2 separate regions of the Homo sapiens genome follow, and region 2 is linked to region 1. Evidence: fine-mapped expression QTL. A gene starts in region 1. The other region holds a variant in brackets. All regions are shown on one strand. Distances are from middle to middle. Region 1 holds the start of KIF16B (kinesin family member 16B). Region 2 overlaps KIF16B (kinesin family member 16B).

What was found. PIP is the estimated chance that this variant, and not a neighbour inherited with it, causes the effect.
Region 2: its variant is fine-mapped to the expression of KIF16B in lung (TOPMed, PIP 0.92).

The regions. Positions count from the first base shown.
Region 1 is chr20:16,566,701-16,583,016 of GRCh38, reverse strand. It overlaps KIF16B (kinesin family member 16B), which reads left to right and starts at 9,569. Exons shown (of 26, transcript NM_024704.5): 1 at 9,569-9,788. The coding sequence starts at 9,742. LOC124904875 (a long non-coding RNA gene) reads right to left here and starts at 7,714. Exons shown (of 2, transcript XR_007067539.1): 1 at 7,290-7,714; 2 at 3,658-4,138. RefSeq lists enhancers at 1,472-1,641, 9,291-9,812 and silencers at 9,533-9,662, 9,449-9,678.
Region 2 is chr20:16,262,562-16,279,768 of GRCh38, reverse strand. KIF16B (kinesin family member 16B) reads left to right here. Exons shown (of 26, transcript NM_024704.5): 26 at 6,358-7,665. The coding sequence ends at 6,516. Among named protein-coding and RNA genes, the nearest start is that of KIF16B, 300 kb to the left of the region's middle. The variant T/A (reference allele first, on the strand shown) is at 7,592.

The DNA of each region.
Region 1 (16,316 bases):
TAAGTCTTCTCTGAAGATGGCAATAAAATCTATGAACATGTTATGCAGCTTCAAAAATCTGTGCACACCTGGTAAAATGACTTTAAAAAATTGGCAATCCCAACTGCTGGTGAGAATATGGAGAAGGAAGATTCTTGTACATTGCTGGTGTAAATGCAAAATGGTATACCCACTCCAGGGAATGTTTTTGCTTTTTTTTTTTTTTCTGAGTTAAACATGTACTTGGAATAGACCAAGAAATTTGATTTCCTTGGTTTTTGCCCAGAAGAAATGAAAACTTAGGTTCAAACAAAACCCTATATGTGAATGTTTGTAGTGGCTTTTTTCATAATTGTCAAAAGTTGGAAACACCCAAATGTCCTTTAACTTGTGAATGGACATACAGACCGCGGTAAATTAAATACTACTCAGTAATAAAAGGAACTATTGAAACATGGATGAATCTCAAATGTATTATACTAAGTGAAAGAAGTCAGACACAAAATATATGATTCCATTTATATGACATCCTATAAAAGACAAACTGTAGGAACAGAAAGCAGATTAGTGGTTGGCAGGGGCTAGGAGAGATTTACTACAAAGGGGTGCAGGGACATTTCTGGGGTGATGATACTGTTCTATATTTTGACTATATTGGTAGCTACACAAATGTATGTATTTGTTAAAACTCATAAAACTGTACACTAAGAACTCTGAATATAACTATATGAAACTGATATCCCAATACACCTGACTTTAAAATAAAAAGCCTGTACTTCCAGGGAGCTTTCTAGGAAGGTAGAAACATTCTGAATCTGTGGTGGTTACATGGGTATATACATATGAAATAATTCATCCAGTTGAACATTTAATATTTGTACACTTTATATGCACCATTGAATGTATTTCACATCTTATTTTAAAAAATAAATGATAAAAAAAGTCTGGTTGTACCTTATACTAGCAACAACAGAGAGAGAGAGAGAGAGAGAGAGAGAGAGAGAGAGAGTGTGTGTGTGTGTGTGTGTGTGTGTGTGTGTATGAGGGAGAGAAAATAGGATGCTGAGGAAAAGGATCAAATGACTGTCTACAACCCTGTTGGGATGGATATGAGACCTTGGGTATGGTGCTTGATAATGGCAGAAAGAAAGGCTATGGCCACCAAAGACAAATGTCACCAAAGTTGAGGTAGAAGGCAGGACTCAACTCCAGTGTGGGGCTGGGACACTGGACCAAATTGAGGACCAGCTTTCCATAAGGCACACCCATCAGTGTGCCATGGCAACATCCAGAAGTTATCACCCCTTTCCATGGCAACAACCCAACAACCCAGAAGTTACCACACTTTCCTAGACATTTCTGCATAAACCACCCCTTAATTTGCATATAATTAAAAGTGGATATAAATATGAGTGCAGAACTGCCTCTGAGCTGCTACTCTGGGCACAGTGCCTCTGGGGTATCCCTGCTCCGCAAGCAGTGCCTCTGCTACTGCCGTACACTGCCACTTCAGTAATAGTTGCATTCTAACACCACCAGCTCACCCTTGAATTCTTTCCTGGGTGAAGCCAAGAACCCTCCTGGGCTAAGTCCCAATTTTGAGGCTTCCCTGTGCTGCATCAATGTCACAGTCTTGCTTAAGGCTGACCATTTGTATCAACATGTATGTTTTTCCCCTATCACTTCATTCAATTCTGCTTCTGACAGCTGCTCTTCCATTTCTAGTGATTTCTCCAACACATCTCTGCTGAGAAGGAGGGGCTGAAGGAAAAGGCCTGAGCTATAAGGACACAGATATCAGGGTTCAGACCTCGGCTCTAATACTTACAAGTTATATGACATTCGGCAAACTTCTCCATATATTTTCATCTGGTGTATTTCTTCTCTATGAGTCATTCATGTACAGAGAAGTCTTAGTGCCTTGGGGATCTTCAGGAACATTACACACCTCTCAGCAACAACTTTGGAACACCCAGTTTCGTACTAATGCTCCTTTTTGAGCATTTGAATGATTTCTGCAGCATAATTTTTGTAGCAATAATAGTGAACCATAAAAACTCAATGGCCTCATTATCAAGTCATCTGCACAGGGCCAATTGATTTGGATGATATCAATTCTCTTAATCCTTCCCTGGAGTGCAGTGGGGCAGAGTCCTGCTTGCTTATTTTACACAGAAGAAAAACTGCTGCAGCTCCTAGGCACCCCAGCTTTGTTCCTGGAAATACGAGGAAATGCAAAGGTGTGGCATCCCTACTGGCAATCTACTGTATTCCCATGTGGGCATGGTGAAATCTCCTTCACATAGATTGCAGGAGCACCTCCCTGACTGCTGAGGTCCTGTGGAAAGGGAACTTGAACACCATCCGGAATATAGGAATTTTTTTATGGGGGGAATGGTGAATAGACAGACAGAGTTCATTTCCAGATTTTTATTCACTCTAAGCTTTTTCAGATTCAGTGTCTCTGGGGTGCGCATTGTTGAGCATCTTTACACTTCAGCCTGCTGCCATCAAACCCTGGACTTTATCCCAGAGCTACAAATGAGATCTCAGCCCTGGAGTTGTCTGTCATGAGCCTCGGGGCCTGCTTTGCTGTGACTGGACACTCTACCATCTGTCTGTCAGCTTTGAAGCGCTTCCCTCTTTTGTCCCAGGAATGCAATTAAGCAAGTTACTTGGAGCTGTGCCTTCAATAATCTTACTGGAGGTTTACACAGTCATAGGGTGAGTTAACAGGGTAAGGGTTTAATCAGTGAGTTGGATGAGGAAAGTATTTTGTTTCTTGGCTTAGTTTTGCATGGTAGCATTTGTCTCCTTATGTAAACAGAGTGCAAGTTACTATCCTGCCATCTTCTATACCGTATTGAATTACCAATGTAATTGTAATCAGCACTTCTGGAAAGTGCTGATGGCCTATTTTGTACTTGTTTGTGTTAATCAATGTTAATTACAAAGCAAGCACAGGGGTTAACGAATTATAATGGGCTTAATTAAGCTTGACAGTAACAAATGGCATAACCTTTATGTTATGGCCTGGTTAAAGTAACAAAAAAAAAAAAGGGACAAAATAGACCAGAAAATCATCACATAGGAATCCATATTCATATACTGATTACCTACAGGAACAGAATAGTGTAAGGAATTTATTGGTTTTGCTAATTGTCAAGTTAAATTTTTACCACACTGGCACTACTAGGAGTACAGAGAACTATTAGGCCTGACTTTTACCCTCAAAGAATTTGTAATTTTGTTGGAAAAGAGACACAGAAAACCAAGTTTTAAAATGGTCCAATGAGTCACAAGTGAGTGATGCCTACCATGTTACAAAGCATTTGGAAGAGACAGGGATCACCGTGGGTTGGTGCAGTGGAGGAAGACTAGGGAAGGTAGAACTCAAAGAAAGAACTCGATGGAGGAGAGGAGGGAAGTAGGCATTCTTACTGGATGCATGGGTGGAGCAAAGGTTTGGAGGTAGGAATGCAAATACTGTGTTCAGTGAGCATGCATGCTTCTGTGAATCTGCTTCATTGATTTAAGTGTCACAGAGGGGTAAGGAAAGTGTTGTCCACAGTCACACTACCTGGTCTGAGCCTTGATCTCCCCGTGTATGGAGTAAGAAATGACCACAAAGACACTTCCGGCGCCCAACTACAGCTGCAAAAGCCCTTGAGCAGGGCCTTTTCTCATTAGATGAGATAGGATGTATTTGGATGCAAGCAATAACACACACACCCTAAACAGAATGGCTTCCATAACAATCATCTGTTTACTGCTCCTAAGTCTACTGGTCAGCTTGGTTGTTCCGCTGGTCTGGACGGGCTCAGTTGTTCTGGGCTGTTCTCACTCATACATCTGATGACTTGGTGGAGGTTGGCTGGTGTGAGGTGGCCCCACTCACATGTCTGGTGGCTGCCTGGCTATTGGTTGCAGTGCTGGATTTGACTGGGACACACCAACATTCAGTAGGTTAGCCTGGGCTTGCTTACATGACAGCAGCAAGTTTCCTAGAGCCAGGGTTAGGAAGCATGCAAGGCCTCTGAGGCCAAGGCTTAGAAACAACATGAAGCCAATTCTGCTGCATTCTGTGTGCCAAGGGAAGTTCCAGGGCCAGCCATATTGAAGAGGTGGAGAAAGAGATTCTACTTCCCATTGAGGGGAGCTGCAAAATGACATCGCAAGGTATGAGTCCAGGGAAGAGAAGCATTTACAACTATTTTTAAACTTTACACTGTGCTTCAGGTAAAGAGGCTTTCTCACTATTCCAGAAGCAGGACTCGCTTTTCCAACACTAAACATTTGTTCAAGGAATTTCCTCTGCTTTAGAAGTCACCTCCTCACCATTTTCTGGGTTCAAATCTGTCCCTCCTGCAAGACCGATCTCCAAAACTAATTCATCCATGAAACTTTTCCCAATCACTTTAAATAAACATGGTTTCTCACTCTTTCGAAGTTAAAATGAGGCCACAGACTCTACAGTCTATCAGTTCTGAACTATTTATGACCACATAGTTTTATATATATGGTTGCATACAGTTATATGCAATTGAAAACAATCATTTTTATCTTAGTATATAAAATGACTATGATTTAGGGTGATAGCGTCTATTAAATTGAATCTAATGTGATTTCTTTATTCACTTTTGCTATAAAAGAAAGCAGGCATTCATGGTTACCTGCCTAAAGCTTTACTAAAATTACTTAGTACGATTTTTGCAATTATCTTTACTGTGATTTTGGAGCTCAGATTTTCTCTCTAGCCCCAAAGTATACTTTTTCAAATTATTCCTGCTTTTAATGTTTAGTATTTTAGAAGATTCTAAATATACTTTAAATTTTGTGACTTAGAAAATGAAAATCGTAGGCCAGACGCAGTGGCTCACACCTGTAACCCCAGCACTTTGGGAGGCCAAAGCAGGTGAATCACTTCAGGCCAGGAGTTTGAGACCAGCCTGGCCAACATGGTGAAATCCTGTCTCTATTAAAAATACAAAAATTAGCCAGGTGTGGTGGCAGGCACCTGTAATCTCAGCAGCTTGGGAGGCTGAGGCAGGAGAATCACTTGAACCCGGGAGGTGGAGGTTGCAGTGAGCCAAAATAGCGCCACTGGACTCCAGCGTGGGGGACAGAACAAGACTCTGTATCAAAAAAAAAAAAAAAAAAAAAAAAATTGGTGCTGGGTTTGGACTTGGTATCTGTGATTCCTGTCTCTGGTACTACTATTTATTATACATTTATTTGAAAACCAGGAAAACACTTGTTTTTCTCATTGGCTCACCACATAGCTCTTAAATTCAACTTAAGTCCCTTGGTGTAAGGCACTCCTGTAGGAGACACTAAGTGTATCATGTGATATAATGCTTCTGGTGAGTGCTTCTAGCACATAGGGAAATCGATGGGTTTATGAGGTGTCAGTTATATCCTTCGTCCCAATTTAAGCGTGCCAGTCTGATGTTCATCAAGATTTTTTAAAAGTCATGTTTGTAAGAAAGTAAATCAATTTTATTCCTCAGAGGCTAGGATGAAGAAAAAGCACAGCTCATGAGAAATACAGTATTTTTCTTCTGATAACAGTATTCCCTGATGATTCAAATATTTTGCGGTGGAGTGAACATTCTATTACAGTGCTATTTTGCGTGGAAATGAAGAAGCTAAGACTCAGAGAGCTTAAGTCACTCAAAAGTTTTCGTCCATTAAAAAAGTTTTCAAAATAGAGATTAAAAAAAGATTTGAAAAAACGTTTTAAAAAAGAGATTGCTAAACATCAGAAAAAAATTTCAATAATAAATGAAGACCAAAATAAACTACATCAAAACAAACTAAACAACCACATCCCCCACCCCACAGTCCCGCCATGCACATATGCATCTTGAGACCATTTGGGTTTTAACCCAGATTTCAGAATTTTCTCTTCTCCTTCCCATCACAATTCAACCTTCTTAGAAAATAAAAATGTCGGCCGGGCTTGGTGGCTCACGCCTGTAATCCCAGCACCTTGGGAGGCAGAGGTGGGTGGATCACGAGGTCAGGAGTTCGAGATCAGCCTGTCCAACATGGTGAAACCCCCCATCTCTACTAAAAATACAAAAATTAGCCGGGCTTGGTGGTGGGCACCTGTAATCCCAGCTACTCAGGAGGCTGAGGCAGGAGAATCGCTTGAAACCGGAAGGTGGAGGTTGCAGTGAGCCGAGATCGCGCCACTGCACTCCAGCCTGGGCAACAAGAGCAAAACTCTGTCTCAAAAAAAAAAAAAAAAAAAAAAAAAAAAAAAAATATATATATATATATATATATATATATATATACACACATATATATGTATATATACACAATAAAAATAAAAATGTCTTTTATCCATCCAATTGAATTTTAAAATCATAGATTCTTAAACCTTTTTTATGCCGTGGACCCTTTTGGTTGTTTGGTGAGAGTAACATTTTCAGAATAACATTTTAAAATGCATAAAATAAAATAAATGGGATTACCAGGAAAATCAATTATACTGAACTATAACTATTAAAATGTTAGAAATAAATGTGATCTTAAGGTAGGTTTGTTATTTAGTGGCTCTCTTGAGTACCCACCCCTCCTTTGCGGGGCCCTCCCACATTGCCTGGGCGTGACCATGTGACTGCCTTTGGTCAATGGAAGTCCAGCAAAGGCTTGTGCATAGTGCGGTGCTCTCCTGGCGAGGTGTCTCGCCGCCGCAAGAAATCTGGAACCTGGTCTAAACTTTTTGAGGATGAAAAAGCAAAATGCACCAACTTTTCCTCACCCCAGGTGAGCCTAGAGCCCAGCCACAAAGCCCGGGTGACACCAGCAACCCAAAGAATTGAGAGAAATAATAACCGGTTTTTGTTTTAAGCCTCCACATTTTTGGCCATTATTTTTATGCATCAGTACATAACTGATTTGGATCCCTGAATTCTTACTGACCTTTTGGGCCCTGGATTTACTGCTTTTTTTTTTTTTTGAGATTGGGTCTCACTCTGTCACTCAGGTTGGAGTACAGTGGTGCGATCTTGGCTCACTGCAACCTCCTCCTTCCATGCTCAAGCGATTGTCCCACCTGAGCCTCCTGAGTAGCTGGGACTACAAGCACACGCCACCATGCGTGGCTTTTATTTTTGTTTGTTTTATTTTGTCGTAGAGACAGGGTTTTACCGTGTTGCCCAGGCTGGTCTCAAACTCCTGAGTTCTGGCAATCCATCCTCCTCGGCCTCCCAAAGTGCTGGGATTACAGGCATTAGCCACCGTGCCCGGCCTAGAGCTTCTGTAACTGTTTTTCACTATCAGTTATTTTAAGCTCTCACAGTTTGCGTAGAGGTCATCTATCCCCTGGCTCCTTGCAGGGAGGGTGGCAGCCGACAGCATCTTCACTCCCCGAACGTGCTGGAAATGCCATGTCTCAGGCTTCCCCTCTGACTTGCCCATTAGAAGCTGCAGTTTCACAAGACCGCCAGGTGATTCCTTTAAACATTCAAGTTTGCAAAACACTTTAAAGCAGGCACACTAAAGTCTGAGATGAGCAAACCCCTTATCTTATAATAATCTTCCCTTTCAGAAACTTCCTTCACGCCCCAATAGAAATATTTTCTGCTAAGAAAGTGCCCGTTCCGTATCGTCTGTGATGATCAAGCCTTACTGCTTCCTATTGAAAAGCTCCAGGCATGCTGTTTGTTGTCTAAAGCGTCTGCCGGGCTGCGATGGTCCGTTTTGTGTCAGACAGCAAAGTCGTGGATGGAAAGGGGGCTTATAAACACGTGTAGGTTGTTGGAATTACATTAACGAATGAATGAGCAAAACCTTCTAAACCACCGACCAATGAAACCCCGATACAGAAAATCGCTGTCATGAGTAAGTTAGCACTCCTGAAGAGTTTGAATACTGAACTGGCCAGAGTCTGCGCGCCGACGCCCCCCAGGTGGCCGGAGTGACCCGGAGCAGGCGTGGCTGTCTCTCAGACCCGCGCGTTGGGCCCGAACAGTTTGTCCCCACGCAGCTCCCATATAAGGCGGGCCCCTCCCCTGCCCCAGCCAGCTAGGTCGCCGCGCTGGCTCCCTGGCGGCTTCTCAAACCAACCCGCCGCTACTGCGCATGCTTGGCAAGCTCGCCCGCTCCTTAATATCCTGCTCCGGCTGTTCCTGCCACCCGTTGGTCAAATTCGCACCCAGCTCTGCTCCAGACAGAGGGAAAACCCAGTGATTTCCGGGCTCTAGAAACAAAGGGAGGCTATGATTCCCTGCTGGCCCTAGGGGTCCAGGGAAGGTTATGGAAAGATAATTCTTTGTGTAAGCGGGTTGCGTACTTGCAGACATCATCCCACTTGATGCATTCACCACTCTATGCCGTTGTTCCTGATTTGCAGATGAGACAAGAAGCCTCAGAGGCGCCCAGTAATTCAGAATTACAGGCTGACAAGGCTAGTGTTGGAGCTAGGACTTAAAAACAGGAGTTCCGCCTCCATTCCTTGCGTCTCCCATTATAGCTTGGCTTCCTGGAATGGCTGCTCCTGTGGCTCGCAGGTGGGCTTCTGGGTGTGCGCAAACGATTTCATGCATGCTCGATTCACTGAATGAATGAATGCATTTACCTTCTACACAGGAAGGGAGGTGGAGCTCACTTCTACCAGAGGCCCTAAGCCTTAAGATACCAGTTGTCGGCCTGGCGCGGTGGCTCACGCCTGTAATCCCAGCATTCTGGGAGGCCAAGGCGGGCGGATCATTTGAGGTCAGGAGTTCGAGACCAACCTGGCCAACATGGTGAAACCCCGTCTCTACTAAAAATACAAAAATCAGCCGGGCGTGGTGGCACGCCCAGCTATTCGGGAGGCTGAGGCAGGAGAATCTCTTGAACCCGGGAGGCGGACGTTGCAGTGAGCCGAGATCGCAGCATTACACTCCAGCCTGGGTGACCGAGCGAGACCCTGTCTCAAAAAAAAAAAAAAAAAAAAAAAAATACCAGTTGTGTTCGCCTTTAACTCCCTTATGATTAAAACTAAAAATTACTAAAGTGTACAAAAGTGCAAAACAAGTCTAAATAAGGTTTGATTCTAGCCAATATAATGACATTCCCGCACACATTTAAAACATCCAACACCCTATTAATTTTCGTTTATCGGTATCCCGAGTTAAGGGGTCCAAAACATACGGTCGGACCTCCTTAGGGTAGCAGAGAAGGCCCTAGCGGAGTTTGCCACCAACAAGCTGTGATCATCTCTGCGCCTCAGTTTGTTCGTGTGTAAAATGGATACGTTAACTCATGTTTGGCTGGGTGAAGCCAGGTTCTTGTTAAGGGCTGAAAAACTGGCTTTGGTCACCTGACCCCAGGACTGTGATCCTTGCCGCTGGCTTTAAATTGCTGCGATCCTCTTCTCTCCAGTTGTTCAGGCCATGAGGGTGGGTTCTAGTTTTCCTGAAACCATCCGCTCCGGGTCGCCCCCATAACCTCTGCGCCAAGGTCCACAACGTGGCCTTTCCAGACTTGCAGATCCCGGAGGCTGCTTCCAGGCCCCGCGGCCCCGCCCCTCTGCACCGCCCGGCCGCCGCCAAACCGTGGCGCATGGATCACGCGGGCCGGAGCCGTTCTGGGCATGCTCAGTGGCCTGGCAGGTGGGGCTGCCGCGGAACTCCAGGTCCGGCCGGGAGCAGAGGGGCGGGGGCGAGAGGGAAGTGGGCGGGAGCCGCGATCTGAGTAGCCAGCGTCGCCGGCGACCGCGGAGTTCTGGGCTAGTGGGACCCCGCGCGGGCTGGTTCGGGATGAGCGATGGCATCGGTCAAGGTGGCCGTGAGGGTCCGGCCCATGAATCGCAGGTGAGTGGGGCCGCCCGCGCCCCGCCCCCTCGTCGCGCCCCCACCCAGAGGAAGCCTGTTTCCAGCTCCCCCAAAGCCAGCCTGGACTTAAAAGTGTCACCGGCTGGTCCCTGGCCCACCGGGCCCAGGCTGTGGCCTCTGGGGGCCTGGAGGACTTCGTGCACTGCTGTCCCGTTCACATTGCCCTGGAGAGGACCCTGGTGGTAAAGGAGAAGATTCTATTAACTCTCTCCATCGTATTAACTTGAGATGTTCTTGTTCCCCCTTTAAAAAAGCATCAAGGGAACGTTACCATGAAGATGTAAAATAGTTGGGGGGAAGGTGAGAGTGCTGAGGGGGGGCACCACGAACTGTCAGGTGAACCCCTCATTTCTACCAACTCAGAAGTTCTCTTAACAATTAACCATGCTACTTTTTAATCTTTCAGTTAGAGATGATTTTGATTCCCTGAATGTCTAATCGATAACTTAGCAGTTCCTAACTTCATGTTAGAGAGTGGATGGGAAAACTTTGACAAAGTCCTGACTCCTAGAAAAAAGTCAGGGACGCTTTACACGTGTTTGAAATACTCTGATATTAAGAGAGAGGAAGAGTGTTACACACAAAATTTAATCTTGTTATATATTTCTACGAAGTAATGCTTTTTCAGAATCCTTCTCTTCATTCACTGAAAAATAGCCTGTGCTCCCTTTTCAATGACCTCTTTTTAATCCGTTTAGAAAGTTTCTTTGGAAAAGTTACTTTTTAAATTGGTTTGACTTCAAAGAATGAGGTAGAAATGGGATGTGTCCTCCAAGGTGACAGGCAAGGTTCACACAGAGCCATTTGATTTTATTGACTTCTCTACCAAGTTGGTGGATATTTGACTTACCATAGGGCCTTTTTGCTTTTGTCATATCAACTTGTGGAGGTTAATGTTTGGTAGTTCTGATGCCTGATTGGGGCAGCCGAAGGCCATAAAATCAAAAGATTTCCAGAACCTTATTTGACTCATCTAAATCTGTTTCTTCTCTTGGCAAGTAGGGAATCATTATTTTGGTTTGTAATCATTAAAACCCAGTGTTTTCAGAATCTGCTTTTTGTGACTTTTGAGTTATTTCTAAAGCTGTTTAGAGTAAGAGTTTGACTTTTTTGCTCTAAGGGAATATTTTTGTTTCTGTGTACATTCCATCATAGAAGATAAACTTTAGAACGATTTTTCTTTATTATGGATTTTCATGTGTATAGAAGTTCTTTTTCTTTTTTGGAAAAAGGTGAACACATGCTAGAAAATTGTATTGTGTAACTTTAGAAAGTATTTGTTAGGCTGGGCGCGGTGGCTCATGCCTGGGAGCCACTTTGGGAGGCCGAGGCGGGCGGATCACAAGGTCAAGAGATGGAGACCATCCTGGCTAACACGGTGAAACCCCTTCTCTACTAAAACTACAAAAAATTAGCCGGGCGTGGTGGTGGACGCCTGTAGTCCCAGCTACTCGTGAGGTTGAGGCAGGAGAATGGTGTGAACCCAGGAGGCAGAGCTGGCAGTGAGCCGACACCGTGCCTCTGCACTCCAGCATCAGTGACAGAGCGAGACTCCCTCTCAAAAAAAAAAAAAAAAGTATTTGTTAAGCACCTACCAAACACATAGCATTCCTCAGGGTGCTGTCTGGGATACAAGGGGAATGAGACCTGGTGAGCCATGGTGAGAGAGGGATTATGTACTGGCATGAATCTTGTGAAGTATTGGGCCTGCTGGGACAGGAACTGTGAGTTCAGTGCCTTGCCAGTGTAGGCCTGGAGCCCAGGTACATGGAGGGATGGCAGGAAATAAGTCCAGAGGCCATGGGCTTTGGGGAGGCAGATTCGCGTGATGTTATTTATATTCTCAGTAGAGAACTCTGGTGGTGTCAAGATTGAGGTAAGAGGCAGGTGATTAGCAGTTTGAGCCAGAGATGAAATTGGAAGGCAGGATAGTTACAGGAAGACCACTCACTGGCAGAATTGGCAGGATTTGGCAGCTCACTGGATGGGAAGAAGGGGGAAGAATGCGAGTGTAGAGTCATTAACTGAGGTTTGATGCTGAAGGAGGTGAACAGGTTTGAGGAAGGTGGACAATGAAGTTGGTATGTTCTCTCTTGGATGTGGAGAGTTACATGAGATGTATTAAGTGTCAAGTACAAGCACAGAGCAAGTGTTTCACGCATGTTGACCTTGTTCATTATCTGAAGTGTGGGAAGGACATCCATCCCTCTGCTAGAGATGTTCAGCAGAAAGCTGAAAATGTGGGTTTAGGTCTCAGGTGATTTGAGGATCGACATTTGGAAATCTTTTGCACATAAACCACAATTTAAGGATGTTACGTGAGAAGAAAAGGGAGCCAGGGATTGGACATTGGGATATGCCCCTCTTTAGGATTTCAGGGAGAAGATTGGCTTGCAGTCCGTAAAGGAGAACCAGCACAGCAAATGGTCATGGCAGGAAAGGGAGAAGAGCATCCTGAAGGAGGTGGTGGGGGTTAGTGTCAAATATTGCCAGGATGATGAGAATAAGATGGTGTCCTTGGTCTTGAAGACAAGGCTAGTTGATAACCTTCCCAACAGTACTTTTAAGGAGAGTCAATGATTCAGAAGTTGGCAGTGAGTAGAAAGAGATATATAAATTGGCAACTGAATATACTTGACCTAATTTATAAGGAAAGACATGCATACTATAATAGTGATAAAATGCCATTTTTTTACCAGTGAGATTGATAAATATTAACTGAGCACCAATTGCTGGTACAGGAGTGATGAAACAGACGCCTCTGCATTGATCACGGAAGCATAAGGGATCAAAACATCTGAAACTTTCATATTGGGAAATTTGACAGTAGCTGTCAAGATTAGAAATCTGTATACTTAAGCAGAAAATGCTTCCCTTAAAAAATTGGAAATCTATAAACTTTTTGATTTGACCATTTCATTTCTACTTTTTCTAATTTCTAATTTTTATTATATGGATTATATTGCTGCCTACAAAGATATATGTGTAAAGATGATGATTTTTGCATCATCATTGATAACAAAAAATCATAAGTGACCTTAATATACAAAATTGGGAAATTTGTTAAGTTATAGCGTAAATCATTTGGTGGATTATTATGCAAGTCTTAAAAAGAGGGTGTTGATCTTAAAAGAGTTCCAAGGTAGAGGATTGAGAAAAGCAAGATATCCACAGTGGAGTAAAGTTGTGTGTTTGTGTGTGCTAACAAATGTACACACACACACACACACACACACAGATTCATCTATATGTAATGGTTTGTAAGAAACCTAACACTGATACCTCTAAAGAGGAGGACTGATGATGAATCCATTAGGCAAAGATGAAAGGCTTTTTTTTTACTGTTTGTTTTTACTTTCCTCATGCGTAGTTTTATAATTAATACTTAGAATTAATTATTAACCCAGCAGTGCTTATTTAGGTAATTTTAAAAAGTCACCTACAAAATTCATTGGCACTGGAGAAGTTTCAGTTGGTTGTGAGGAGGATTGAAGGAAGTTGTTAATGTTTTTAATGTTTATTTTTAGAGTAGTGGAGCCTCAGGCAAAGGGAAAGCAACCTACAGAAAAACAAGTCCCAGAGTTATTGGAAAGTAAGGACTGCTGGTGGTGGAGTATTGAGTTTGACTGAGTTTCTAAACTAGGGGCCTTTGCAGTAATCAGTCAGCCTTGTAAGGAATATGAGTGCTTGATTCAGGCCAAGATGTGATGAGTTTATTTTTATTGCCTTATGGCTTTCAATTATGTGGCAGTAATACTCATTTCAAATGCGGAAGTGATTCTGTTACGTAGGCAAAATGGTAGCCACCTTTATTGAGACTTGACTCTGTGCCAGACTCTCTGGTCCTAGCTCCAGGTACAAAATCCAGTTTAATCTTTGCAGCCATCTTGGCAGGTAGAGACATTATTGTTATGCCATTTTACAGATTGGGAGACAGAGTTTCTTAGTGTGTTTGGACTGCTCTAACAAAATACTGTAAACTGGGTGGCTTATAAACAACAAGCATTTACTTCTCGTAGTTCTGAAGCTTGGGATATCCAAGATCAAGGTGCCAGCAGATAGGCTGTCTGGCTGTCTTCTGAGAGCCAGGTCCTCATACATGGTAGGTTCTTGCTGTGTACTCACGTGGCAGGAGCAAACAGACTCCCTTGGGCCTGTTTTATAAGGGTACTAATCCCATTCACAAGGACCTCATGACCTAATCACCTCCCAAAGGCCCTACCTCTTAATACTATCTCAGTGAGGGGTTAGGTTTCAATATTTGAATTTTAGGGGGAGACAAACATTCAGATCATAGCACATAGTTAACTTGCTCAAAGTCAAAGTCAGTTTCTTAAGACAGTCACAGCTATGCCTTTTTTTTTTTTTTTTTTTTTTTTTTTTTTTTTGAGACAGGGTCTTACCCTGTTGTCTAGGCTAGAGTGCAGTGGCGCAGAGTCGTGGCTCACTGAAGCCTCAACCTCCTGGTGGGCTCAGGTGATCTCCCTGCCTCAGGCTCCTGAGTAGCTGGGACTATTGGTGCACACCACCACACTTGGCTAATTTTTAAAATTATTTGTAGAGACGGGGTCTCCCTGTGTCGCCCAGGCTGGTCTCAAACTCCTGGGCTCAAGTGATCCTCCCACCTTGGCCTCCCAGAATGCTGGGATTACAGGTGTGATCCACGAAAGAGCTGCAGTTGGGTGTGAAAAACACTGTTGTGGGTTCAAGTGAGATAACGCATGTGGATAAAGCTCTCCACACAGAGCCTGGCATTCAGCAGGGGCTCCCTGAAGAGTGCTTGTTGTCATTACTATTATTTTTACAGTTTAATAATTGTAACTTTATTCAAAAACAAGTATTTAAAAAATGCCAAAAAATATTTACTGAGTGCTGGTGATGTGCCAGCTTTATAGCTATGTTGTATAATGTGCTTGCTTATCTGATAGGGCAAATCCACCCCATTCTTTCTCTTTTCTGACTGTTCCTAGCCTTTCTTCCTGATTAGCCTCTCAGGTAGAATCTAGTATCAAGTCTATCAAGTTCAGGAGAGAAAAAGAAGAAAAAAAACCACCAGTGGCATTTTGCCTGGATTTGATATCTTTAGGGTGTACTGACGTCTTCCTCTTTTAAAAAGAAGATAGGTCAAAGGGAAAGTAGTTCATGGTTAGCCTCTTAGGTCTGTGATGATGAGGACAGACATGTCTTGTATTAAGGACGGGAAGTATCTGTCAAGGCACTGCCAGGTACCAGGTACTACACTTATTTCTTTTTTTTGAGACGAAGTCTCGCTCTGTTGCCCAGGCTGGAGTGCAGTGGCGCGATCTCGGTTCACTGCAAGCTCCGCCTCCCGGGTTCATGCCATTCTCCTGCCTCAGCCTCCCGAGTAGCTGGGACTACAGGCGCCCGCCACCACGCCCGGCTAATTTTGTTTGTATTTTTAGTAGAGACAGGGTTTCACTGTGTTAGCCAGGATGGTCTTGATCTCCCGACCTCATGATCCGCCCGCCTCAGCCTCCCCAAGTGCTGGTATTACAGGCGTGAGCTGCCAGCCCTATGCTTATTTCTTTACCTTGGCAATTGCATTTCCTCCTCTCACCAATTGACTGACCTATAAAAGCCAGGGGAGACTGAGACCCCTCAGATAATAATGCTGGGTTGAGCCAGCTGCTTCGGTTCCCTTCAGAGCCCTTTATGTAGTGACGTTGCCTCTGGGCTTACAGATGACAGAAGCCCATGGCCTCAGGGAAATGCCGATCAGAGAATACACAACACACAAAAATAACAATAGAATCTGTGTACGGTTGAGATGGAACCTCTAGGGGATTCTAGAGGCTAGAGGAAGAGATCTCCAGTGCTTCTGCCATCTCTTTAGATAAGAGGGTGGAACTTGAGTTGAGCCCTGAAGGGATATTGCCAGCGACCATATAGATAATTTCTGTTAGGTGCTTGGCTGATACTCTTTGGAAGTTGGCATTGTCAGCCCATTCTACAGATGAGGAACAAGGGCTCAGAGACTGTAATAAGGAGGTCTCTTATTCAGAAATAAGAAATAAGACCGCCCAAGGTCACATAGCTAGATACTATGATGCTGGATTTGAATCCAAGTCTCCCCTACTCTAACTTCCTAAAGTCCTTTCATTATACAGAAGACTTAGTTGAGAGGTGGGCAGGGGGTGGTTGGAAGGTAGGAACATGTTTATTTCACTAATGATTTTAGACAAATTGAAGATTTTGTAAGAATTAGTTGCAAGGCAGGTAGACAGGGTGTTGTGAGGACTTTTCTTTGTGAAGCCTGGGCATTTGGGTTTTTGATCTCTAGATCCCTATGCTGGCCAGTATAACTGTCGGCCACCTATGTGACTATTTAAGTTAACATAAAATAAAATAAAAAAAGGATTTTAGTTAATTGCATTAGGCACATTTCAAATGCTCAACAGACACATATTCAATAATGTAGATATAAATATATCCACCATCCTGGAAAATTCTCTTGTGCAGCAAGTCTGAATAAAGGCTTGAATTCCA
Region 2 (17,207 bases), 300 kb after region 1:
ATTGGGCTATGTGTAGATCAGGGTCTGGGGCAGGAGCCTTCCAGCTTCAGGCCTAGCTGTGGATGGACCACCGGGATACTCTGACCTATCTGAAATGTGATTCTCCAGAGCCTCCTAGGATCGACCTTTTCCTAAGAGAAGAGCGTGATAGGCAGATACCTCCATCTTAGCATAGACTAGCCCTGGAGGAGCTTGATTGTGTTCTACAAGGAAGGTTTCTTCTGATTCCTGACCCTTGTCTGCCCCCTGCCAGCGCTGTGAGATTATTGTTAGTTAACTTGATGGTAAACAGTAGAAAATGACTGTCACCACAGTAAACAGATGGAATCATTCGCTCCTAGCCTTGGGAATGGACAGAGACCAAAGGCTCTCCTGAAACTGCCCAGCTTTCCTGAATTTCTCAAACTCTTGAAAATGCTCCATAACAGCAGCTACACAATCTGGAAGAGGTGTCCCCCAAAGGACCCTTGGTTCCAGGAGACTCCAAGCGCTAGTAGCTTGATTAGCTCTTTGGCTGTAAGGTGTCCACCCAGAATATCATGGGAAAAGCTTATCTGTCCTATGCCTTAAGTCAACCAGTTAACCAATTCCCAGAGAGGGGAAAGGTGTTTCTTCAGAAGGGGATTGGGCTGCTGTTTGGGAAGGGAAATGGGTACAGGGCAGTCAGAGAATGGCCAGTGCCCACCAAGGCACTGTAAGGGAGATACCGAAGCATTCCCTGAGCTGCCTTGGCTCCCTGTAGAAGAGCGTGAGCCTTGCAGAGAAACAGGACCTTCCCCGTGTTTGTAAAGAACTTTTAACTCTGAAGAACCAGTGCCTGCTGGTCCCCACGAAAGCACCATCAGGCCTAGGAAAGGCAGTGCATCTGACCCAAGCAGCTAAGATGCCCGGTGTAGACAGACTTGCCCGGTGAGAGACCGTGTGGCTCAGCAGAGGGGACCTGACTGAGAAGCAGGGGATGGCGGGTGCTGTGGGTAGCAGGCAGGAGCCTGAGTCTAGGGTGTCTCTCATATCACCACATCCCCCCTTCTTCTGCTCGTGTCTTCTGGCCTCCACTTTAAAAGCTCATAGTCCTGTACAGGATTTTGTGTTTGTTTGTTTTGGGGAGATTTTAAACATCATGTGCCAGGGTCACACTTTCTTTGGAACAGACCCATGGGGGTCCATGTCTCCCAGTTACCTGTAACCCCTGCTCACTGCCCCTGAGCAACAAAATATGCCCAAAACCTATAGAAGAAAGGCAATTCATGAAATCGAGGTACTCTATGTCAGCACTGAAATATACCGTAAAGATTAGCCATCTAAATTTGATTTTCTGAAAGTATTGATAAGAAAACACCTACATCAGTATTGGTCCAAGTCACAAAAAGTAAATAACCTAGATAGATATCTGATATATTTCTTATTATTCTTAAATTCTTTTTGCCAGCTTGGTAAACAAATAAATCATGGGTACCCGTCTCCAACGTTGTTGTGCTGGTTTGGTTTCCTTTTCATTTCCACCTCTTTTGTCTTCCCCTCCATCCCAGCCCTGTTTCTCTTGTCCTCCCCTAGACAGCCCCCTCTGTCTCTCTGTGGCCCCCTGTCTCTCTCGGCCTCTTCTCTTTCCCATGATCACTCACTGTCAGACAGACCCTCTCCTAGGCCCCCTTTGGCTCCGCCATCCCATCTTATTTCTGGTTTGCAATCGTATTGAAAGAAGATTTGGTTTAATCTGACTTTCCTCCTCCAACTATCCAAGTCAGGGCCATAATGTTGTGCAACCCTAGGAGGTGCTTTTGCTGTTCTCAGTGGCCCTGACACAGGACATTTGACAAAGCAAAGACTCAGGTGTGTCACTGTCCACCAGGTGAACAAGAGCTGCAGGCCTTCTGTGGTCCCTGACGTGCTAGAGATTTAAATACGCCTGCTTTTATTTCTTTTTATAATGGAGAAAATGTCCTGTGAAAGTCAGAAACAGATTGGATATTGGATTTCACAAATCTTTTTCCCACTTTGCCCTTCTGACCTGGATAAGTCACTTAAACTCCTAATATCCTTCAGTTTTCGCAATGCTCTTTTATAAAGCGTGCTGACCTGGGGAGATGCAGCTTGACACCTGGACTGATTTTTCACATCCTGGGAGGGCTACGGTGACTTTGGGGTCAACAACAAGGGATAGCTTTGACAGGGGGATTTTAATTTTCTCCCTTCAGCCACAGATGCTGTGGAAAACATTGTGAGCACAGGCAATAAAAATTACTAATATGAATGTGTGTTGTTAGGTAAGTATGTATATTTTAAATATTTTATATATATATATATATATAATATGTACATAAAATAGCAGAGTTCAAGTACATTGGCTAAGCTTAGATTTGAGTGTAAATCTCTACAGGAAACTTCTTTATTGGAAGGATAGTGATAAACTTGACTCATCAGACACCAGTAATATTGGGAAGTAGATTTCATTAGTGAAGAAGAGTTCAGACTAAAGGACCAAAGCGGTGACCAACGCTTATCCCTGTGTTAAAGCCAATCGGTGGTTTTGTTCAGATGTGAAGTACTGCACAGTGCTGGTACTCAACAGACCACAGCTATGCGCACAGCATGGCCGCATCTCACAGACACGGCATTAAGCCATGGAAGCCAGACACAAAAGAGTATATCCCAAATGATTCCGCTCATATGAAGTTCAAAAACTGGCAATTCGAATCTCTGGTGCTAGAAATCAGAATAGCGATTGCCCTTGAGGGAAGGTTTGTACCGGAGGAGGGAGTACGAGGAGGGCTGCCTGGGGGCTGGAAGTGTTGTATAATTCATATCTAGATGCTGATGGCATAGATATATTAACTTTGTGAAACTGTATTCAACTGTACACTTGTGTGTGGTTTTCTGTGCATATACTTTAATTCAAAAAAAGATAACTAATTAAAATCAGCAAGGTTTCCTCTCAGCACGTTTCCTAAGCTTGGCAGTGTTCCAGGGATGATAGGGGGCTTCAGAGAAGAATGAGACACTGTCTGTGACCTTAAGAACTTTCTAGAATTCTAGTTCTGTCTTGTGTCCCCAGCTGTAGCCCCAGTCCCTTGTTTTTTTTTCATTTGCCAGAATTTGTTCAGCCCATTTGAAGCATGTGGCTCTGGACATGGCCAACAAAGGTCATGCCTCATCTTAACAGACTTTAGAGCACTTTGAGGTCGCTGCAAAGAACGCTTCCTAATCAAATCATTTCTTTGCGCCAAGGAAGCAGGCTATGTAAAGGAGGCGAAAGCTGCCTAATTCTCCTTAAGCAGAAATTTGTTTTGCGAAGAGAAAACTCTTCTGTAATGTTTAGAATTAGTCAAATCAGATCATTCTATCTGGAGTTTTTGTCAAACAACACTAATGAGTTTATTTAAAGAAAAAGACATTACCTGACAGTTGTATTGTTCTCTTCTTATGGTGGTGCTCTTGAAGGGAGGTGTCTCAAATACTTCCTCTTTTCCTTTCATTTATATTTTTAACTTTTACTTCTCTTCTTATTATACCCTTTAGGCTTTATTGGCCCTTTATAGGGACCCTACTTTGTGTACTAATTATGACAAATGCTGATATAACATCTGCTCCCAGATTTAAATTGCCTTCCAGTCTGTCAGAGTTCATCTTGAAGTCAGCTTTGCTGTAAACATCAGCCTGCCTGTTAATGCAGCCTGTGGGAGACCTGAAGCCGGAGCCCACAGGAGCTACCTGAGATGAGGCCTGTGCAGCGAGCCTTGCTCTATCATGCATTAAACTGTGAAAGAGCAGTGGCTCCATGCACAAGTCAGCAAGCTCTGCATCTCCCGTTTTCCAAATCATCTCACCCTTGATCTTCCCAGAACAATCAGTTGTGCACATGCATTGCACCGCGAGCATTGGCTGGTTGAGTGTAGTCTACGATATATACTGGTGACCCTGTTTGATGCAATTCAAGTCCCTTTAAAGTTGATATTCTCAGGGTCCCTTCCCGCAGAAAAGTGGAAGTCAGGTCTCTCTTTGCCCCTCTGATAAAAATAATTACTAAGATTAAGATCTTCACTTTTCAGCAGTTGATTTTCATAACTTCTTACCAATACCTAATTTCAATTTCAGGATCGTTTCTTGAGAGGGTACCATGAGACCAGTAAGTTAGGGATATGGAACAAGAAAAAACATCTTGAGTTGAGAATACTTGCTTTCAAGTCTTCTCTCTAGATTACTAGCCTTGCTCACCTCTCCTGGCAATAGCTTCCTTACCAGGAAATGGGTAATACCAGAAGAAGATGTGATTCCAGGCCAAGTGTAAGGATAACATAAAGTTAGGTGCCTTAGGAAACTTTTGAAGGGGATGCAAATATTTATCTTGATTTAATGGTGGTTTCACATGGGTCAGCACTCATGAAGTTATACATTTAAAGAATGTACAGTTTATCTGGCCGGGCGCAGTGGCTCACACCTGTAATCCCAATACTTTGGGAGGCCAAGGGGGGTGGATCATTTGAGGTCAGGCATTTGAGACCAGCCTGGCCAACATGGTGAAACCCCGTCTCTACTAAAAATACAAAAAAATTAGCTGGGCATGGTGGCACATGCCTGTAGTCCCAGCTACTCAGGAGGCTGAGGCAGGAGAATTGCTTGAACCCAGGAGACAGAGGTTGTGGTGAGCTGAGATCGCGCCACTGCACTGCAGCCTGGGAGACAGAGCAAGACTCCGTCTCAAAAAAAAAAAAAAAAGTACAATTTATCATGCACCAGTTTTACTTCCATTAAGTGTAAAACATTGGATGTTAGAAGATTTTTAGAAACTAAGTTATTTTACAAGTGTTGTTGTTAGTAGTCCTCATTAATATTTTGAAGGAGAATTAACAAATTCTCGTTGAGTAGAATGTCTTCTTTCAGAAGGAAATTTCAGGTTGGCAATTCATAGAGGTAGCTAAATTCTACTTTCTCTTCTCAACTGTGGCATCGTCGACATTTGGGCCAGATAATTCTTTGTCCTGTGCTTTGGCATCCCTGGCCAGCATCCACCAGGTGCACTGCCTGTGCACCCCTATGTGACACTCAAAACTGCCACCAAACACTGCTGAACACTCTATGGGGCAGAACTGCCTCTTGTTGGGAACTACTGCTCCAGGCTTAGGCCATGTTGCTTTCACAAATTTTTTGTTGTTACTCAGAGTCCAGAATTATTATGTGTAATTCCTAAGACTGTGCCAGGGTTGTTTGGGTTTTTTAAGCACACTGAGACAATAATAAAGGTTTGGGTCTAACCCCTTCCCTCCAGCCCATTTTCTGTTACAGATGAGATTTGCCTGGCCTAAAATATATTAACTATTCTTGTGTGCCCTCTTTTCCTTGAACACATCCCTCCAGCTCCCACATCTGATTTTATCCCCAGTTCCCAGAGCCTAGTCTCACATATGCTTTGCTTTCTCAGTGCCAAAAACGGCAGATAATGTTGCAACAAACATGCAGCAGGGGTCTGGAGCAAGTAATTGTAGTAAGGATTCCTTTTTGTTGATGATTATAGGACATGCAAAAAGATCTGTAAATATCAGTACTTGGAACTGACCCTCTTGTCCTCAGTATTGCTTTCCCTTTATTTTATAAGAAGGATTCAAAACAGATACTGACTGTGCAATTTTAAAATACCAGTAAGCAGCACATTTAACCTTGTACAGATGGCCGGCCTTTTTTTTTTGTTTTTTTTTTTTAATCATCTTTCTATTTAATGAGTAACTGGGAGCGGGGAGGAAATGACTTTTTTAAATAAGAGATTAACTAGTGACACTGTGGCTGAGAGGCAGATCCCCTGTGCCTGGCACCCTTGACATTTTCCTAGGCATTGTCTGCTGTAGATCTGAGACAGTGCTGCCCAGAATCAGTGCTGAGCCAAAGATATTTCTTCTGTGCATATGTATTTTGTGACTCCGTCTTCTCTGGTTGGTCTGATGATAGGTGGGACAGTGGAGGGCATTCCTCACGTGCTGGTTTTAATGACAATGATAGCACTTTCCAGGTGGGTGGGAAGTTGTTTCTGGAAATTTTTTCTCTTCTTGACACCATCCAACAGTACCTTGACCGTATTCTGATTGATTGATTGATTGATTGATTGATTGATTGATTGAGACAGGGTCTTGCTTTATCACCCAGGCAGGAGTGCAGTGGCACCATCACAGCTCACTGCAGCCTCTACCTCCTGGGCTCAAGTGATCCTCCTGCCTCAGTGCACCACCCTGTCCAGCTAATTTCTTTATTTTTTGTAGAGATGAGGTTTCTCCATGTTGCCTGGACTGGTCTCAAACTCCTGAGCTCAAGCGATCCCACCCGCCTTGACCTCCCAATTGACCATGTTCTTAACTCTTGTCTCTTCCACAGAAATACCTCAGGGACTTTTTCAGCGTGATGCTCCAGTCCGCAACATCTCCCCTCCACATCAACAAAGTGGGACTGACTCTCTCGAAACATACCATTTGTGAGTTTTCACCATTCTTCAAGAAAGGAGTCTTTGACTACAGCAGCCACGGGACGGGGTAGAGCCAGGGGTGATGGAGGAACCACCACAGCAGTGCCTTCTCGTCGAAGCGGGCTCCGATGCAGGGCAGCTCCCCCATGCGAGGATCCGGGTCTGCCTCCTCCTGCTGAAGACAGACATGCAGCAGCGGGCCCGGGCCACCTCACGTTTCCATACCTAGTGCCTGAGTTTGGGGATGGGATGCTCTGCCTGCTGATGTGGCCCTGACAGGCAGCCGTTACCGTTCCATTGCGGTTGAACGTGGCCTTTTCCCACAGTGCTTCCTTCTCACTGCGCAGCAAAGTTCGTCCCCTGTGGCAAGATAGATGTGGTTGGGCCATCGTGGGTTCCCTGAGCCCAGCCAGCCTGGGACCTCCCAAAGTGGGTGGCTTACCAGACCACCCTTAAATGACTTTCATCTGGTTTCCTCTTTCACCAAAATATACTCGTATTTTTTATATTTCTTCCATGTGGCTGGCTATATTCCAAGAAAAGCATTTTAAATTATTTCATTGTATTTTTTTCTTTTTTTCCCTCATTTGAATCAGAACTTTTATATAAAACCCAAACACTGATGTTTACACAGAATTTCATATTCTGCAAAAGGGATTTTTTGATCCAATCATGACTGTAGTCTTCCATGCTTGACAAATTGGATGTAGACAACATTACTTAAAACTTCTATAAATCCCTACAATTAGGATATTTATTTAACCTTGAATATTCAAGAACATTCTCCCAAATCTAAATGGCTACTGTGCATTCTTGAGCTTTTTCTGCTAAGCACAAAATGAACGCAAAGCTAAATGCATATTTTTAAGTATTATTCACATTTTTTGTTACAGAATCTATTGGATCTTTGGCTGGAAAACTAGAATTTATAGCAGTTTATTAATGATACCTTAAATTACTCAGGACTTAATGTAGCATTGCACTTCTGTGTACAGTAAAACTGCTTTGTTTTACTAAAGAGAAAAATGTGAGTGGAAAAAATATGTATGTGGTATATACTCAAATGTATATAATTCTATCTATAGATTTATATATGTATACATTCTGTACAGTAGTTCCATCAAAATATGTAATAATTCACACCAA[T/A]TTTATTAAATGTATTTGCTTTTTCAAAATTTAAATTGAGCTGCTATCAATATTAAATGAAGTTATGGCATCTACCCTGTAGCTCAGCTTATTTTAAGTCTGTAACATGATCATTCATACTAGTCTGTTTAAACATTGATCTAATGTTCTTGGAAATATGCATAATGTATAACTCAGCATTTGTGTTGCAGAAGATGCAGTGATAGTAATGATTGAAGTCGTAAATGAATGGTTAACAGAACATGTTTGCATTCCATCTTCTAGAGAATGCCTTCACAACAAAGTTCTCCAACCTGAAAAATATGCATAAACGTGCAATTATCCCTATAAGGAGGAAAACTAGTATTGCACTAATTAAATATCATAGTATAGTGTGAAAAAAAATGAGGACATTTTTGCTGCAGAAGGACCTGCTTTTGTCTGCAGTTGTGATTACAGGAATAGGTTTAGGAGCAATTACTACCAGAGAATTTCAAACTAGAGATTAAGGGATAAGAGCTGGGTAGATAATAATTAACCATAGGTCATTTATTTAAGAGGAGTCTTAAGCCCTAAAGATGGTCCCTCATTTGCTGAGTAAACTAAGTGGTTTCTCTTCAAACTGACCAGATAATCTATCTCTTGGCCTTTGAGGCCGGTATTGGAGACTAGGCTCCTGGTAAGCATTTTGTTAAAATCACACAGAAGGTTTGGCAAGAATAAATAGACATGTGTTTGTAAGAAGTGCTGAAATCAGAAGATCCTTCTATTCTAATCCTCACCTTAAGTAATTATAGTTGAGTTTGGAGTTTGAGTACTACTAGCAAGCTCTGGCCAAGGCCGGTCATAACATGGGAGTCGTTTTGCCTCTCTAGGCCTCAGTCTGTCCATCTGAAAATGAAGCTGTGGTACTGGATGGTCTCTTGAGTTTCATTCCAGCTCATGGTTACAGCAGAGGAATAAACCATGTCATTCGGACTCATTACAGTCCCTCATATGTGTACGTGAAGTACATACTTCCAATCTGATTTAAAGGCAGCTGATTCTGAATAAAACATGAGGGAAAGTTGAAAAGCAAATGAAAAGTCACATCTAAACAACAGAATTCCTTTCTGGAGTGAAGATAAGACAGATGACAGAATTAGGATAACAAATGGAAACTCCATTGATTTGGACTAATTTAAAAGAGTGAAAGAAAATTAGCAAATGGATATTTTATTACTTCCAAGTCATCAAATAACAAAGTAACGCCAAGCTGACCACTTTAGGCAATTCAAATTGAAGTGTCATGAACATAAATACTTTTGCAGTCGGTTGGACAAATCTAAGGAACTTAAACAATTTTTTATTTAAGTAGTTTTGACATTCACTCCTAGGTCTTGCTTGCATGATAAATATGTGCACCAAATTTGTTGATATCACTGGTATTGTAACCTTCCGCCCAGTTCCCACTCAGACCTTGCTATTGCTGAATTAGAAAGATTCACATTTAACCTCGTGATTAATTTTGGCATATGAATAGGGAGTAACCAAGTCATGCTGGCTTCCCCAATGACTGACATCTAGAAGATTCTGTGGCTCATAATGGGGGATGATTTGAAGATACACAAACAGGGTATCCCACCCCAGGGCCGATTCTATTTACAATTCTATGCAGAAAGAGCTAGTTCTGCCCAATTTGGTCCCTGATCTACTCAGAGCTGTAGACAGCATATGTGTCCAAGTCTGAGCAGAAGCAGCCAAAAGCTTTCACGGCTAGAACATGCCATAGACTCAGAGGTGGAGGCACCCTTGGGGAGCAGCTGTGGTGCAGGGTCACGTTGGTGTTCTGTATTCAACTTTTAAAGACAAGATTTTTTTTTTTCTGGACACATCTCCTGCAGCACAAAACCACAAGACCCCATTTCCTCAGGTGCGCAGTCAGGGATGCAGAGCCACGTGCTAAGGGGATGTGGCTCCTTACTGATACTCTGAGCCTGCCACAGGCTTGCCTTGTCCCCTCAAAGAGAATGTGCATAGCGCTTCAGGCCTGACATGCTTCAAACAGTAGCATTAGGTTTTCAAGTACACTGACGTTTATAAATGCCTAAAATGTTGCCTTGATTAAAATGTTGCCTTGAGGTGTCATCAGTTGACAGTTGAACGTCTCTGCCGCAGGAGACCCTTCTCCTTCCATAATCTGACACACACCTATAGGAGTGATTCAGATCCGACTTTATCAGAAAGGTCTTTCTTTTTTCATGTTAAATAAAAGAAGGGGAGTAGAAAAGTTAGGCAAAATAAATCCATGGCAAAATTAACTAGGGGCTGGAAGGGACAAGGACAGTGAGATGGCAAAATTAACTGCTTTAGTTTTACTTAGCTTATCATGACAGGTGATTTAGGTTTTGGGAAAACTAATTAAAGACCATTAATCTACAGAGACTCATTCTCGCAAATTAAACCTTGTGTATTCCTCCTTTTTCACATGCAAGAAGACCTGGCTATTGACTTTCTTGGTTTTTTTTTTGTTTGTTTGTTTTTTGGTTTTTGGTTTTTTTTCTGTTGAGACTGCTTTTACTGATGACAGTTCATTAGATAGGAAATGATTCTGTGGTACACAATTTTGAACTTTGCACATAGGGAATTATTTCCAAATTGACAAAAGTTGCCCATTATTACAAATTTCTGAAGCATCCTGTTTCAAATTGATCCCGTAGTGGTACCTTTGAGTTAGAGGGGTGATGTTAATGTTGACCAGGGTGTTACCTTGAGAATGATAATTTGGGATCCAGTAGAACCCTGTTAAACTTTAAAATGGTAGAAGGAGCAAAAAGGCAGTTGACTGAACTGAAGGGGTTGAAGGATGTGAGTTCATCCTTGTTACCTGCAAATAGCACATGCGTGCACTTACCATCCGGGAACTCTGGGCACTAGGCTGTGGCACATCTCCCAAGGTTACCCCATGCCTTTCTAGAAAGCTGTCTCCTGTGTGACTCTTGCAAAATTGACTAAATGCAAAACATCCTTTCTTTGACTGTCCTCATTTGAAATATACTCTTGTATTTGAAAATGAAATAATGAGGTTTTTTCCTAAGGATTACCTCTCCAAACACTGCGAATTTGAAGTTCATTGACTTGGTTTTCCCCTTCTCCATTGCCGAAAAGGCAGATTCTTCCCCATTCAGAGAGAGACAAATGGATATGTTTGCAAAAAGATGCACAAGCTATCTTTCGCTAAGCATCAAAGATGGGGAAGTGCACTGGGTACAAAATGGGAAATGCATAAATGAAAATGCAGAAAGCCCCACAAGATTAAATATAGGAAATGGTTTGGTAACATCAAGACATATCACCAGAAAGAGGGAAGCCTTCCTCCAGAAATTAAATCCTGTGGGGAAAATGTGAAAAATATAATTAAACATCACTGCTTGAAAGCAGAATTCTTTTCCTCAAAGTGTCCAGTATTCTTATGCACAATTAACATTTGCAGAAGTGTTTGTGTCTTTCCAGTAGCACTTACAGTTGTGCCTGAGAGCATCTCACTGGAGAACAGCCTCGGGGTTTGCTATTCCTGTGACTCCAGCGTTCCTTCCCACTCTTGCAGAAGGAAGGAAGGAGGGTGGGCTGCAACTGCTCTGTCAAAGCTGCCGGGACAATCTCCAGAGAAAAGAATCACAGAAAACAATAAGAAATACCAGTTTGTGGTAATTAAGGGTTTAAAAAAAATTGCACTTTGGTTGATTTCTAAACTCTGTTAGCTTTTCTCCTAAAAACAAGCTAGAAGCCATGAGAAAGGAGTGGGGTGGCCTGCCATCACAAATGACTTTTTGGTGTGGTGTTTGAAGTTTGATTTCAATGACTGTAATACGAAGAGTTGACCCACAGTGGGTGCAAGCCTTCAGCTGCAGAGTGATTAAAATACTGGCTACTTATCCCTTACAAGTGAATGGGAAAGGCCGTGTTTACATTTATGAAGGGTTTTCAGTGCCTTCTAGAGCAACAGTCTCTCAGCGCACCTATGTGTAGTTTGTTTTTAGTAAAGGATTTCTGGTCAAGGAGTGCAGCATTCCCTTCAGGGTTTGGGAACTGGAGTATTCTTTCAGACTTCTTATCCGAAGAACTTGGACGAGTTGGGCATCGGAAGACTTGCCCGTGTGTACAGCTCTGCCCAGAAGACACCGGTGCCAGCCAGGATCTTCTACCGCACACCTCAAGCCTGCTCCCCAGCTTGGGTCCTCATCTCGTGAGCATACGCCGTGTGCCATTCTTCCCTGCCTGCCATCCCCATGGCCCCTCTCTCACTCTGTAACCCTTGGGGGCTGGGGGCTGGGAGTTGGGAGGGACAAAGACAGTGAGATGACAAGGGTATTTGAAGGTGGCCTGAGAAAGTTCATAAGGAATGGAGGACACTTGCCCTACTTGAAGCCACCTGTGTTGATTCATGTCATGGCCGCCTCCCCAGCTCTTCCTCCTGCAGTGGGAGAGGGGAAGGAACTCTGGCCATTCTTGTGGCTCCACTGGCCACCTAGTTGAGAAGGAGCATGGCACAGAGAGTGCAGAGCAAGCTGGCTGTGTCCTTCTTACTCCTTGTTAGAGAAGAGTTGGCTCCTCATCAGGGACCCGCAATCCACCATTCAGTCAATGAACACACATTCACGAATGTCTTCTATATCGTGGCCCAGGGCCCAGTGCCGGACACGCAGCGGTAGGCAGCGTGGGCATCATGGCCACAGGTCTTCCCTCTGGGAGCTCCCATTCCACTCAAGACATGGACCAATAATTGCACAACTGTATGACTGCAAATTGTGATACATGTCATGATGGAAAAGTCAAGGATGCTGGGGAGCATGTGCTAGGGAAATGCTCTAGTCTGGGAGGCTCAGAGTCTCCCTGGCAAGCAAAGTTTGGGCTGAGACCTAAGAGATGAGAATTGAGTGCCAGAGAGATCACCCCAGATTGAGAAAAGACCTTGAATGGCAGAAATCACCCATCCTGGCTATGATATGAAGAGAACAACAGGGCAGCGTGGGATTGGAGAGGCAGGTACAGGCCAGATTAAAGGCGCCTGAAAGGTTGCTGACCAGAATTTTGTAAAGGGAATCATGTTTTCCCATTAGCTACCACTGTTTCAGGATATCTCTGGGGGAGGAGAGATAAGGGCATATGACAGCTGAGACTCAGCCTTCAAAGTCCCACATAATAGGGAGAAAGAAACAAGCTTCTGAATTAAATATTAACAACGGAAGGACAAGATCGCAGCGGAGAGTGCTGTCCTGCGCCATGCAGGGGCTGGCTGTTCTGCTCTTTTTCTTTGACCTTTGGTGCGTTTGGAGCTCTGAGATTTCAGAGGCTCTTGCCATGGAGAAGGACCATCTCCTCAGACCCTCAGATGCCCAGCTGCGGTGTGTCCAACTTACGTACTGCAGCACCAGCAGGCCCAAGTAAAGTTCCCGCCCTGTCTTTGGGCTCCTACCTAATCCTTGCTTTGTGAATAGAAGACAAAAGCCCCATGCAGACACAGCTGTCACAAAGCTACGTGCTAGCTGTGGGGCTCAGTTTATGACTTAGACCAGCAACTGCACAGAAGCATTGTGTCCTCAAGCCCAGGATGCCTGGGCATCAGATAATCTGTGTACCTTCCGGGCCTCAACATAATCATCTCGGTACCGTCCATAAATGAAAAGATTGTTTTTAGATTCAACAGGACGGCCTATAAATTAATGTTAATATGATGTGTCTGTGTGGGGCCATCAGAAATGGGTTGCTCAATCCATGCCTTGCGTTTACAGAGAACCCCTTTGCTGGAATAGAACACAAAGCTCAGCCACACTAAGTGTGTGTGGTTCAGTGAAGCAGGTCAGTTTCTATGGAGCACATGGCTCATAGGCTGATACTGAAACCAGCCCAGTGGTCCCATAGAACTGATGTCTATGATTTCTTTGAATAAACAGAAAATGATCCTCCCAGAGTTAAAACTTGAGAAAGTTACATTTGTCTTATCTGAGTTCCTTTCTCAGGAAACCAACCATCAGACCTCCCAGATGGCATCAAGAAGCTGGACTTCACCAGAGCACCACATCTGGACCATGAGACGTAGACCCCTCACCCAGCATGACTACCCAAGTGATCACCTGCTTCCTGTTGAACAACCCCTCTTCCTTGCCTCTCCCTAATTTCTGTTTCATGGCTACATTTCTTCCCTGCTATATAAATCCCTAATTTTAGTCAATCAGGAAAATGGATTTGAGACTGATCTCCCATTTCCTCTGCTGAAGCATTCAATTAAAGCCTTCTTCCCTGGCAGTACTCATCTCAGTGATTGGCTTTCTGTGCAGTAAGCAACAGGACCTAGACCAAAACCCTGGCATTTCAGTAACAATACTCCTAACCTAGGGCCTCCAAAAAATTTCAGCATGGTCCAGTTTGTATGAACTCAGTGCTGTTAGTCAAAAGGACAATTGTGCTTCATGTGTTAATTCACTAGAACATTTAGTGAACTAACTTCTCAGTTTGGTGCAAGCAGAAAAGGTCCTCCTAGTCCCTCCCAATGGCATCTTCACCAATGGGGCACAGATTGCCACTGGCCGTGGTTGCAGCCAGTGACAGCTTCCCACACAAGCAAGAGGCCCTGAGGGGCGAGGACGTATCTCAGGTGAGGAGAAGTTGCAGCAGGATGCGGGTGGCAGGTCGTGCTCAGGCAGGGAGAGGGGTACCTAGCTTCACTGCAGCCTCTGTGTTTCCCAAACAGCCAGGCCCACACACCTTCTCCTTTATGCTGACAATGCTCACAGCTGTTCCACCTCAAAGGCCTTCTTTCTCAGAGTGTATACTAAAGCAAGGGTTTATTTTGGTGGAAGTGAAGATCCTTCAAAGGCAGTCTCTCTGAGTAGCTCTTGCCCAGGGACAAATCTATTGAAGTTAAAAGCAAGAGGAAGGAGGAGCTGGACTCTGTAGGGCTTTCCAGCTGCACGTGATGCTACTTTTTGACATCAAGTAGGATGCCACATCATCTCCACATGCCACTTCCTTACACACGGGGTGCAATCTTGATGAGCTAGGCAGGGATCCTGATGATGGTTAGAGGTGGCAGGAGCCCTATTAGTTTCCCAGAAAACTACAACCGTTCTTCCACCAGTGGCCAAGCCTCTTGTTGCACGCTCGAGTCAAGGGAAAAGTCTCCATTTGTTCCAGCAAATCTGCTGGTAAGGCAATAACCACTGCAGATGAGGAATGGGCTACAGCCCCTAAGGACCCCAAAGAGCACAACTTTAGCATGTTGTTTTATACCTCCCGGGAGTCTGCACTTCTCAGAGTGACCAAGACAGGGGACGGGGGACCAGTTATTTCTTGCATTTATCTGTGACTGGGAGCAATTACATCACTTATACTGCCTTGTGAGACATTCTCCAAGCTCCCAGCAAAAGCACAGGTCATGAGCAGGACAGCATTGCACCTGGCTGGAAACAAAAGAATGTCAGAGCTAGAAGGAGCCTTGAAAACAATCTGGATCCAGGGGCCATTCGGGGGCTAGACAGACATTATAGATGCAAATGGGGAAGACGCGCTCCACCGAAAGAAATTCAGGTTGCATAATAAGAGTGTCCACCTAGGCTCTGGACACAGGCTGTCACATACACAGGCTGCACTCTGCCCATGGCCACCATTCAAAATCTAATGTAAAATGATCTCTAAAGGTAAAACCATCTGAAGGAGGTTCTGACTTACCCAAGTGACAGAGCTAATTGGGACCTGAGTCTCAACATTCTGTTAACTCCAGGCTCCCTGCCACTGCCTGGATTAGAGAAAAACACTGAGTACATCAGTCATGGGTGAGGCAGGAGGTAGAAGTCACACCAGTTGTTTTCTTAAAGAGAATTTAAAATAATTACAGTTAACTGAAAAGGGGAAAAAATACAAGAACTCCAAATTGTCATGGAGGTTATAACTGGGAAGCAGCTGCCTCCCTTAGGGCTGGGGGAGCATGGAATTATTAATATGCAGAAACATGGAGGAAAAGCCCCCACAGCACTGAAACTAGGCCACCCTGGAGGAGGGGACATCAGCCGCTGGTGCTGGTGTCTCTGAGCTGAAGGAGGGGTCTTGTGGGGCTGGGACCACGGCCCCTGAAGGGGTGTGCTGGCATCTCTGAGGGTCAGGGCACAATGAAGCTTGTTGGCAAATGTTGAGAGAGCTGCAAGTTGGACCCAGCTACTGCTCCTGGCAGGCACTTGCACTGCCTGGGGGACGAAGTGTGGGTGAGGTGATGCTGACAAGAACAGGAAGTGATCTCCTGAGGAAAAGGAAGCAAGCAGGAAGTGCTGCTGGAGGCTGCTCACAGGAACAGACAACAAATACAAAGGAGCAGGTCCTTTCTCCCTCCTCCAGCCCTGCGCTCTCCCTTGAGTGCCTGTCTTGGCAGAGCCTACTAGGGAGCATCTGGCAAAGCAAGAATCAGGCTTGCAGTTCCCAGCCCCAGCATCCCATAGCAGAGGAGAGAAGGATGGGTTTAAAGCTGGGAGATAGGAGCTTACTAATTGGCACCCTGAGCTTTTGCTTCAGTTGAAACTGGGACTAATCCTCATCAGCTCTCAGTTGATTCCAGGAGACCCATCTGGAAGCTGTAACACTCCAAGCCACACCACAGTTCATCACTGGGCATTCTCGAGCTACTGCCTATGCTGGTTGCTGGGCCAGGGACGCCCAAGCCTGGGAGTTCATCTGCATGGCCTCTGCCCTCTGGGAGCTTACCCAGCAAGGGCAAAATTTGTCCCAAACCTTTATTAGGTGGCCCAAGAGACTGGACACTTTTCTCTTGAAGCAGCAGCCATGGCCATGGGTGCCTGCACGGTGCAGTGTCCCTCCTCCCACTTGCGTCTTCTGCCTCACCCAGACTGTACCATGGGTTTAGTTTCCTGAGATAAGAATTGTTCAAAAGCTGCTTTAGAAAAGGAGCCCAAGCATCCTAGGGCACCCATTCCTGGACTATGATGATAGTTTCGTCTCTATTCTTCCCTCCATGACCAGGAAAGCTGCTTTGGTAACTAAAAAAATGGATCTGGGAGGACTTGCTCTAGTTCCATGGCCATGTGAGGCAGAGCCAGGTTGTGGATAGGCCCTGTGGGCAAAAGATGAGGATGTTTCTAGAGCATCCACTGGGGAGTAAGCTCTATGGGTCAGGGCTTTGGGACACGCAGTTATATGCTGCTGATGAAACACAGTGGTTTCTTTGCTCTTCTTGCAGCTGTCAACAGTCCTTTACTAATCCGTATTAGAATCGTCTCTGTTCCCCATGGCCTCAACGTTCAAGGTGGGCAGGTTCATCTCTTCTACCCAAGTAACTGAAGTGCTACTCACCTGAGAAGTAAGTTAGTTCTCTGTGTTTATCCTGAAAGGCAAGATAAGCTATAACATTCCTGGCACTGGGCCGTGACTTTGACCTTCAGAGACCTGAAGCAGCTGTTTTCCTGACTGTTTTGAGCTTCAGAACTTGTAAATAACTATTTCCTGAAGATAACTAATATCCCGTAAGCAGACATGGGAGGCATAGTTTGGTCTTGTTTTTCCCATCCTCTGACTGGTTTTTCTGCATGACTACTGTTCTGATGTGAGGCCAGCTTGCCAAGCCATGAATCTAAGAGCTGACTTCCCATTTGAG